Linked DNA regions of Homo sapiens: region 1 is linked to region 2. The links come from fine-mapping of genetic effects on gene expression. A gene starts in region 2. The other region holds a variant in brackets. All regions are shown on one strand. Distances are from middle to middle. Region 1 overlaps BSG (basigin (Ok blood group)). Region 2 holds the start of GZMM (granzyme M).

Evidence for each region. PIP is the estimated chance that this variant, and not a neighbour inherited with it, causes the effect. A credible set is the group of variants that fine-mapping cannot tell apart.
Region 1: its variant is the best candidate, but not a certain one, in a credible set for the expression of GZMM in whole blood (INTERVAL, PIP 0.68).

The regions. Positions count from the first base shown.
Region 1 is chr19:579,908-585,201 of GRCh38, forward strand. It overlaps BSG (basigin (Ok blood group)), which reads left to right. Exons shown (of 9, transcript NM_001728.4): 4 at 472-554; 5 at 739-875; 6 at 1,408-1,684; 7 at 2,399-2,423; 8 at 2,607-2,675; 9 at 2,843-3,586. The coding sequence ends at 2,670. Among named protein-coding and RNA genes, the nearest start is that of HCN2, 7.3 kb to the right of the region's middle. RefSeq lists enhancers at 3,470-4,032, 4,033-4,594 and a silencer at 4,567-4,836. The variant A/G (reference allele first, on the strand shown) is at 2,868.
Region 2 is chr19:541,621-546,982 of GRCh38, forward strand. GZMM (granzyme M) reads left to right here and starts at 2,433. Exons shown (of 5, transcript NM_005317.4): 1 at 2,433-2,506. The coding sequence starts at 2,452. It overlaps CDC34 (cell division cycle 34, ubiquitin conjugating enzyme), which reads left to right. Exons shown (of 5, transcript NM_004359.2): 5 at 1-467. RefSeq lists an enhancer at 1,801-2,446.

The sequences.
Region 1 (5,294 bases), 38 kb after region 2:
AAAGGGCGCCACACTGCCAGGTCCCGGGCACGTGTGCGGGCCTCCCAGGCTCTGTGCTCCTGGCACAAGAGGGCACCACACTGAGGCATGCCCTGCTCGGACCCCAGACGCTGTCATGGCCGGAGCTTTGTCATAACTGGGGCTGGGACGGCCCTGGGAGCACAGAGCCTTTTGTTTTCAGGCTGACTGGGAAGACGGTCACAGGGTGTGGGGTGCAGAGCAGGGACCAGAGGTGTGGGGTTCATCAGTCGGGGAGAAGGGGGTCTGTTGGTTCTCTCACCTGTGGGGTCTTGCCAGCCTGGCTCTGTCCTTGGGGCCGCACGGGGACCCCAGGAGTTCTTTTGAGGTTCAGACTTGACTGGGACAGTTTTGCTTTTTCACTGTGCCGTGGTTGGGCCCCTGGAGAACCCTGGGTCCTTGGAGGCGTCCTGCAGAGCTGGTACGCGGCTCACCTGCCTGCTGTGGTTGCAGGGTGGACTCCGACGACCAGTGGGGAGAGTACTCCTGCGTCTTCCTCCCCGAGCCCATGGGCACGGCCAACATCCAGCTCCACGGTGAGTCCTGCAGCCAGGGGTACCGGGCACCACCGACTGTCGGGAGAAGTTGTTGGCCTGAGGCACCCGGCACATCCCAGAGCCCTGGCCCCCTGCTCCCTGGAGGGGAACAGCCCTCCTGCGGGAGGCCGGGGATGGGGGCGGGCCTGCGGTTCCAGGCTCCTCTCTCTCACCCTCCTGTCAGGGCCTCCCAGAGTGAAGGCTGTGAAGTCGTCAGAACACATCAACGAGGGGGAGACGGCCATGCTGGTCTGCAAGTCAGAGTCCGTGCCACCTGTCACTGACTGGGCCTGGTACAAGATCACTGACTCTGAGGACAAGGTGAGAAGCCAAGGAGGCTGGGGGTCCTGGACCCAGCCCTCAGGACTGGGTGAGAGGCCTAGACTGGGGGTCCCGGACCCAGCCCTCAGGACTGGGTGAGGGGCCTAGACTGGGGGTCCCGGACCCAGCCCTCAGGACTGGGTGAGGGGCCTAGACTGGGGGTCCCGGACCCAGCCCTCCGGACTGGGTGAGGGGCCTAGACTGGGGGTCCCGGACCCAGCCCTCCGGACTGGGTGAGGGGCCTAGACTGGGGGTCCCGGACCCAGCCCTCTGGACTGCAGCCCTCCAGACTGGGTGAGGGGCCTAGACTGGGGGTCCCGGACCCAGCCCTCAGGACTGGGTGAGGGGCCTAGACTGGGGGTCCCGGACCCAGCCCTCCGGACTGGGTGAGGGGCCTAGACTGGGGGTCCCGGACTCAGCCCTCCGGACTGGGTGAGGGGCCTAGACTGGGGGTCCCGGACTCAGCCCTCAGGACTGGGTGAGGGGCCTAGACTGGGGGTCCTGGACTCAGCCCTTGCCTTTGGTCCCCTAGGCCCTCATGAACGGCTCCGAGAGCAGGTTCTTCGTGAGTTCCTCGCAGGGCCGGTCAGAGCTACACATTGAGAACCTGAACATGGAGGCCGACCCCGGCCAGTACCGGTGCAACGGCACCAGCTCCAAGGGCTCCGACCAGGCCATCATCACGCTCCGCGTGCGCAGCCACCTGGCCGCCCTCTGGCCCTTCCTGGGCATCGTGGCTGAGGTGCTGGTGCTGGTCACCATCATCTTCATCTACGAGAAGCGCCGGAAGCCCGAGGACGTCCTGGATGGTGAGCCGTCTGCCCTCCTGCCCACATGCCCTGCTCTCGGGGTGGCCCAGGGCCACTCCTGGTCCGTCCCTGCCAGCCCCACCGCTGACCCAGAGCTTGGAACTGAGGAGCCCCAGGCAGGGAGTTGATGGGACCCCGAAAGAAAGTGTGGGATGGAGGGTCTAGCCCCGGGCAGCTGCGGCTCAGTGGGCAGCGGGACCCCGGGAGGAGGAGGCGGCACCTCCGCCCCACAGCCTCACCCGGCCCTTCCCTCCCGCTCACTTGGCTGCAAGCCAGTGTCCTCCGTGGTGAGCCGGCCCTTGCTGCTCTGCATGATCAGGCTCGGGAACCTGAGGTCAGCCATGCTGTGCTCCGGCAGCCCCTGCCTGCCTCCTCGCGGAGCCCTTCTGCCCCTTGGGCTGCGTGTGCCGGGGCGAGGCCTGTGTGGGGCCTGTGATGGCAGCTCCTGGAAAACGCTGTGGGGCAGGGGTGAGGCCCACGAGGCCATGGGGACAGCTCACCATGGGGAGCACACCTGCAGGTGGGGAGGGCTGCCTTTCCCCACAGCACTCAGAAGATGCACGTGGCCGGGGCTGATGAGCTGCCCCGAGCCACCCCTGGGGGTCACTGAGGGCAGGGCTGGCAGCACAGATGCCCCTGCTCGGGGCCTGAGTGGGGCCAGTGCTGACAGGCTGTCCTCTCGTCCTCTTTTTCATGGCGGCGGTCCTTCTTCAGATGACGACGCCGGCTCTGCACCCCTGTAAGTTCCAGCTGTGGGGGTCGGGGGTCCCAAGGAGCGGCCTGCTGCCCCAGGCCTTTAAAACACAAAGGCAGAGCCCCTGGGCTTCAGTATTCGGGGGTCCTGGGGGCCGGGGTGGGCAGGGGTGACTTGGAGAGAGTGACTTGCGGGGGACACCCTCTCACCCGGCCCCTCGTGCCCCAGGAAGAGCAGCGGGCAGCACCAGAATGACAAAGGCAAGAACGTCCGCCAGAGGAACTCTTCCTGAGGCAGGTGCGGTGGGCGGGAGCTCCTCCTGAGCCAGGTGTGGTGGGTGGGTGGGCGGGAACTCCTGAGCCAGGTGTGGTGGGCGGGATCTGCTAGCCAGGTGTGGGCTCCTGGGTCCCGCCTGTGGGTCGCTGGGAGGTGGGTCCAGTCTGAGCGCCCCTCCCTGTCCACAGGTGGCCCGAGGACGCTCCCTGCTCC[A/G]CGTCTGCGCCGCCGCCGGAGTCCACTCCCAGTGCTTGCAAGATTCCAAGTTCTCACCTCTTAAAGAAAACCCACCCCGTAGATTCCCATCATACACTTCCTTCTTTTTTAAAAAAGTTGGGTTTTCTCCATTCAGGATTCTGTTCCTTAGGTTTTTTTCCTTCTGAAGTGTTTCACGAGAGCCCGGGAGCTGCTGCCCTGCGGCCCCGTCTGTGGCTTTCAGCCTCTGGGTCTGAGTCATGGCCGGGTGGGCGGCACAGCCTTCTCCACTGGCCGGAGTCAGTGCCAGGTCCTTGCCCTTTGTGGAAAGTCACAGGTCACACGAGGGGCCCCGTGTCCTGCCTGTCTGAAGCCAATGCTGTCTGGTTGCGCCATTTTTGTGCTTTTATGTTTAATTTTATGAGGGCCACGGGTCTGTGTTCGACTCAGCCTCAGGGACGACTCTGACCTCTTGGCCACAGAGGACTCACTTGCCCACACCGAGGGCGACCCCGTCACAGCCTCAAGTCACTCCCAAGCCCCCTCCTTGTCTGTGCATCCGGGGGCAGCTCTGGAGGGGGTTTGCTGGGGAACTGGCGCCATCGCCGGGACTCCAGAACCGCAGAAGCCTCCCCAGCTCACCCCTGGAGGACGGCCGGCTCTCTATAGCACCAGGGCTCACGTGGGAACCCCCCTCCCACCCACCGCCACAATAAAGATCGCCCCCACCTCCACCCTCACCCTCTCCTGGCTCCTGTCTGTGCCTGACGGGGTTGGGTTTTCCGAGAGCAGGTGCACCCTGGGCTCTGGTGGTCACAGCAGGGGTGCGTCCAGTACTGGGATTTCACATGCGAGGACGGGTCTGCTGAGACCGCAGTGGGTGTTGGGTGGCTCGGGGCATGGGCTGGACAGGGCCTGAGGCTGTCAGCCGGACTGGGAACTTGGAAGGTGGCTGGGGCCGACCCCGTGCCTCAGAGCCACACAGAAGAGAGTGGGCACTGACCTGAGCCTTCTCTGAGCCTGTTACTCCTCTCGGCATGTTTTGGGCCTGACAAAGGCTGAGGCTTTCTGCTGCCTGCCCTGCAGCTGCCTGCACCCACCCACCTGGGCGGGCTGCTTGGGCAAGGTTCAGGGGTGGTCCTGGCTGCTCCTGGAGAGTGGGTGTGTGAAGCTGGTGCCCAGAGGCTGAGGGATGCCCAGCCCCTGCCCGCCCAGCACACGGAACAGATGTGGTTGCAGGGCTGGAGAGCTTGGGGGACCAGGAGCTTAGAGCGTGGAGGTTGCAAGTTGCAGGACCAGTAACTGGGTCTGGAGGGAGGTTTGCAGCGGCTGTGTCAGCCCTGCAGGCCGAGTGTGGCACTGGGCCTTCTGCTGGTCTGAGCGGGGGTCTCAGGGTGGAGGTCAGCAAAAGAGGCTTAGTGGGGGCTTAGGGAGCCTGGGTGGGTTCCCAGAGAAGCTAGGAATCAGATGGGAAGATGGGAAGGCAGTGTGTTTCCGTGTTGGGCAAATCCAGCGTTTTCATGCCACGGAAGCCAAGAAAGGGCTCACGGCCTCCGGCCTCACAGGGCTACGCAAAGGGGGAGTTGAATAAACACGGTGACGGGCCCCGGGCGGCAGCTGCTCCCGGCACTGATCCTGCTGGGCCAGCGGTGGACTTGCAGGGCCCACATCCGGAGCTGCCCACTGGTCCTCGTGCTGCACAGCCTTGGAGGATCTGAGGCTGGCTCAGGGTCCCTGGCAGCAACTGCCCTGCTAGGTGGGGGCTGCTGGGTTCCACAGCTGGGCCCTCCCTGCCGGCTGCCACCAGGCGGCGCTGCACGCCCACGCTGAGTGGGGCAGGCCCTGGAGCCCCTCTGCCCGGGCAGCCTGACGGCCCCTCCTCCTCGGCTGAGACCGCAGAGTCCCAGGCATCACCCACTGAAAGTGTGCTCAGTGACCTGTGAATAGGGATGCCACGTCTGCGTGCAGACATTGATTAGGCGCCTGTGGTATACCTGGAGCTGGAGGGTGTGCGTGGACAACAGGCAGAAAGGTCCAGTGGGATGGAGGCTGCCAACAGGACGATGGGGAAGGGGCGCGTTGGGGACATCGCCGGGCACGCGGCCCAGGTGGGCCCCTGGCTCAGGTCTCCCCCCACCTCCCTGCCTGGGCTCTGTCCATCTTTCTGCCGCACCCTCAGCCCCAGGTGTGGGCCCACCGTGCTTGTGGACGCCTCATGCTCTGTACCGGGTGGGAGGTGTGGGAGTTACAGGTCAGGGCAGCCTTGGGAGACGGGCAGGTTTCCTGGGGTGCTTACCGGCAGATGGGGCGCCTGGGTCCGTGCAGGGTCGTCCGCCCGAGAAAGCAGCCCCTCACCCCTGGGCACTAACTTCATCTTTTTTCTTTGCACACAGAAACGTAAACCTGATTCACAAAAGTATAACCACTCAGCATGTAGCTTTGTACACC
Region 2 (5,362 bases):
TACCTCACGGAGGTTTTGTGCTGGTCCCCGTCTCCTCTGGTTGTTTCGTTTTGGCTTTTTCTCCCTCCCCATGTCTGTTCTGGGTTTTCACGTGCTTCAGAGAAGAGGGGCTGCCCCACCGCCACTCACGTCACTCGGGGCTCGGTGGACGGGCCCAGGGTGGGAGCGGCCGGCCCACCTGTCCCCTCGGGAGGGGAGCTGAGCCCGACTTCTACCGGGGTCCCCCAGCTTCCGGACTGGCCGCACCCCGGAGGAGCCACGGGGGCGCTGCTGGGAACGTGGGCGGGGGGCCGTTTCCTGACACTACCAGCCTGGGAGGCCCAGGTGTAGCGGTCCGAGGGGCCCGGTCCTGCCTGTCAGCTCCAGGTCCTGGAGCCACGTCCAGCACAGAGTGGACGGATTCACCGTGGCCGACTCTTTTCCCTGCTTTGGTTTGTTTGAAATCTAAATAAAACTACTTTATGAGAGGCCAGAGAAGCTGTGCTTGGGAGGGAGAGGCAGCCTCCACGTCCATGAGTGACTGCACACGGCCAGTCCCACTGGGACCCTGGCTACGCCAGGTGTGGATCTGGGAGGCCTGTCCTGGGAGGCACGGGGAGCAGCCGGGTCCCGCGGCCTGTACGTTCCCATGACTTGGGTCAGACAGGCCTGGGCAGCATCCCCCAGCCTGCGGGACAGGGGCGGCCAGAAAGCCCCCAGAGTTCCTCCTCCCTGTGACCAGGTGCATCTAGTGGGACGGGAGCTGCCTCTGCAGGCATCCAGCAAAGCTTCGTCGCGGGTCCACAGCCGCCTGGGCGTTGATCTCAGCGTCTCAGGGCTCCCAGGACCACAGATGCCCCCGATCAGCACTCCGGCGGCTCCAGCTCCGTCCAGGCACACCCTCGGGGTGGGGAGCCGTGGCCCTGGGCACACAGGGCAGGCACCTCACGTCCTGGTGTCAGGAAGTCCCCAGCATCGTTTTATTACATGTCATGGAGGAAAGCTCGGAGCTCCCATGCCCTCCCGGGGCACCGCCTTCCAGGAACCTGCCTGCGTTCCGCTTCTGGGCACCCGGAAAGTCGCTCAGTGGCTGATTCAGGGTCGAGGAGCTGTGAGGATGAGGTTTCCCACCAAGTTGGGACAGAAAATGGGGCCCTGGGGTCTCAGCAAACCATGGCCCTCGGGACCAAACCTGGCGTCCGCCCCTATTGTGAGTGAAGTGTTACTGGCACAGCCACACCCAGGTCTCAGGATCATCCATAGCTGCTTGGTTTGGTTTGGTTTTGTTTTTGAGACACAGTCTTGTGTTGCCCAGGCTGGAGTGCAGTGGTGCGATCTCGCCTCCTGGGTTCAAGTGATTCTCCTGCCTCAGCCTCCTGAGTAGCTGGGACTACAGGCTCCCACCACCATGCCCAGCTGATTTTTGTATTTTTAGTAGAGATGGGGTTTCACCATGTTGGCCAGGATGGTCTCGAACTCCCAACCTCAGGTGATCGCCCGCCTCGGCCTCCCAAAGTGCTGGGATTACAGGCGTGAGCCGCCGCGCCCGGCCTAAATTTATTTATTTTTGAGACAGGGTCTTGCTCTGTCACCCAGGCTGAAGAGCAGTGGTGCAATTACGGCTCACTGCAGCCCCAACCTGGGCTCAAGCGATCCTCCTGCCCCAGTCTCTCAAAGTGCTGGGATTACAGGTGTGAGCCACCGCCTTCGGCCAGTGTCTTTATTCATGAAGACCAAAAACTAGAACAGCGCAAATATCCGTCCGCTGGTGAATGCATAAACACAGCGTGGTCCAGCCACACAATGGGATGTGACACAGCCACAAAAAGGAGCGAGGCTCTGACACAGGCCACAGCCTGGATGCACCTTGAGGACGTCATGCTGGGAGAGACGCCAACGCAACAGGTCCTGTGTGATTCCACTCCTGGGAGGTCCCTAGAGACCAATTCAGAGGCAGGAAGTAGTGGCCGGGCGCGGTGGCTCATGCCTGTAATCCCAGCACTGGGAGGCCGAGGTGGGTGGATCACCTGAGGTCGGGAGTTTGAGACCAGCCTGGTCAACATGGTGAAACCTCGTCTCTACTAAGAATACGAAAATTAGCCGGGCGTGGTGGTGGGCACCTGTAGTCCCACTACTCGGGAGGCTGAGGCCGGAGTATGGCGTGAACCCGGGAGGCGGAGCTTGCAGTGAGCCGAGATCGCACCACCGCACTCCAGCCTGGGCGACAGAGCGAGACTCCATCTCTGAAAAAAAAAAAAAAAAAAAAGTGTTACTTTGTCAGGTGTGATGATGGTAGTGTGGCTTCATCTCGAGTCCTCTTTGAGAAACACTTTCTAAAATGCTCAAGGATGGAGGGTGGAGGGTGTGCAGCGGTGGGCGGGGCTGTGACCGTCACCTCACCTCCCCCACAGGAAGCGCGTGTGGGGAGGCTCGGGGCCGGGGCCAGCACCCACACTGGGTCTCCACAGCGGCATGGAGGCCTGCGTGTCTTCACTGCTGGTGCTGGCCCTGGGGGCCCTGTCAGTAGGTGAGTGGGAGCCGGGATGCAGGGGGGACACTGAGGCCCAGCGCTCTCGGTGGGTCCCTGGATGGGAGGGGTGGGCGCGGGCGCCGACATCCTGGGTGTAAGAGCGGAGATTCATCCTTGTTTGGAGGGGGACTGAGGCCTGGGGCATCCCGAGCTCCTCACGCTTCACCCCGAGTGGACATCCCGGGACCGTGGGAGAGTGTGGTGTCCACCGGCTCACCTCGCCCATCCTCCCGGCAGCAGCCAGAAGGCAGGGGTCACGCTCACACCCGAGGTGCAGAGTAGGAGACTGAGACTTGGCGAAGGAGATGCTGACCTAGGACTGCCCAGCTGGGAGGGCAGAGCTGGGACTCGATCCCCGCTGGCTGCCTGCCACCACCAAGGGCTTGGCTGGGACTAGGTGCCCAGCAGTGAGGGAGAAGGGAGGTGGGTGGCGGCTCCCCTGCATTCCAGCTGGACTGAGTGACAGGGGCTCTTGATGAGTTGGGGACCCAAGAAGATGGACAGAGGTAGGAATCCAGCCGTCAGTCATCATCATCCTTCCTCCCATTTTTATTTCCTTCCACCCATGGGTCCATCATCCCTCCCTCCCTCCCTCCCTCCCTCCCTCATCTCCCCTTCCTTCCCTCTACCCGTCCGTCCACCCATCATTCCTCCTTCCATTCTTCCACCCACCCATCCATCATCCATCCCTCTACCCATGGGTCCATCATCCATCCCTCCCTCCCTCCTTTCGTTCCCCCTTCCTTCCCTCCGCCAGTCCATCCACCCATCATTCCTCCTTCCTCCCATTCTTCCACCCACCCGTCCATCCATCATCCATCCCTCCTTTCAACCTCCCTCCTTCCCTCCACCCGTCATCCTTCCCTCCCTCCTTCCATGTATCCACCCATCCATCCATCATGCCTCTCTCTTCCTTTCCCCCCTCCTTCCCTCCTCCCTCCCATCCATCCATCATCCATTCCTCCTTCCATCCCTCCTTCCTTTCTCCCGTGCTTCTGTGTATCCATCCGTATTTGCAGGGCTCGTGCTGTTCTAGGCCTGCCCTCCTGTCTGACTGGAAGAGACAGGCCAGGCATGAGACTGTGCAGAGCGGAGGAAACACGGAGGGCAAGAGGGCGGGTGGGGGGCCGTTGCAGGAGACGAGCATAAACCAAGGGAGGAAGCCGGTGGGGGAAAGGTACGCAGGCAGCTAAGTGAGACAGACAAAGGCCCAGGGTGCAGGCAGCTTGCAGGCACAGCTAGACTTGCACTCTTGTCACCCAGGCTGGAGTGCGATGGTGCCATCTCGGCTCACTGCAGCCTCCGCCTCCTGGTTTCAAGCGATTCTCCTGCCTCAGCCTCCCGAGTAGCTGGGATTACAGGCGCCTGCCACCATGCCGGGCTAATTTTGTATTTTTAGTAGAGACAGGGTTTCCCCGTGTTGGTCAGGCTGGTCTCAAACTCCCAACCTCAGGTGATCCGCCTGCCTCGGCCTCCCAAAGCGCTGGGATTACAGGCGTGAGCCACCGCGCCCGGCCTATTTTTTTTTTTTAAGATGGAGTTCTGCTATTCTTGCCCAGGCTGGAGTGCAATGGCACGATCTCGGCTCACCACAACCTCTGCCTCCCGGGTTCAAGCGATTCTCCTGTCTCAGCCTCCCAAGTAGCTGAGATTACAGATGCCCGCCACCTCGCCCGGCTAATTTTTTGTATTTTTAGTAGAGACGGGGTTTCACCGTGTTAGCCAGGATGGTCTCGATCTCCTGACCTCGTGATCCACCTGCCTCGGCCTCCCAAAGTGCTGGGATTACAGGCGTGAGCCACCGCACCCGGCCTTAATTTCTGTATTTTTAGTACAGACGGGGTTTTACCACATTGGCCAGGCTGATCTCCAACTCCTGACCTCAGGCTGTCTGCCCACCTTGACCTCCCAAAGTGCTGGGATTATAGGCGTGAGCCACTGCACCGGCCCGCAAGCGGGGACTTGATTTTCAAAGCATGATGGGGATTCAGAGAAGATTTTGAGCTGATTTACGTTACATTATGAAATCAATCCTTTTATATTTATGATTGATTTAAAATAATTTTTGTACAGCTTTATTAGGAAATTATGCACTATACAATTTACTTATTTAAAGACTACATTTCTTGCTGGGCACAGTGGCTCACGCCTGTCATCCCAGCACTTTGGGAGGCCAAGGAGGGTGGATCACCTGAGGTTAGGTGTTTGAGGCCAGCCTGGCCAACACGGCGAAACCCTGTCGCTACTAAAAATACAAAAAAATTAGCCGGACGTGGTGATGCGCTTCTGTAATCCCAGCTACTCGGGAGGCTGAGGCAGGAGAATCGCTTGAACCCAGGAGGCAGAGGTTGCAGTGAGCTGAGATCACGGCACTGCATTCCAGGCTGGGTAACAGAGTGAGACTCCATCTCAAAAAAAAAAAAAAAATGGCCAGGTGCAGTGGCTCATACCTGTAATCCCAGCACTTTGGGAGGCTGAGATGGGTGGATCACAAGGTCAGGAGTTCGAGACCAGCCTGGCTAACATGGTGAAACCCCATCTGTACTAAAAATACAAAAATTATCCAGGCGTGGTGGCAGGTGCCTGTAGTCCCAGCTACTCGGGAGACTGAGTCAGGAGAATGGCATGAACCCAGGAGGCGGAGCTTGCAGTGAGCCGAGATCGTGCCATTGCACTCCAGCCTGGGTGACAGAGCGAGACTCTGTCTCAAAAAAAAAGAAAAAAAAAGTTTTTTTTAAGAGACTGGGTCTTGCTGTGTCGCCCAGGCTGGTCTCGAACTCCTGGCCTCAAGTGATCCTCCCTCCTCAGCCTCCCGAAGTGCTGGGATCACAGGGGTGAGCCACCCACATCCGG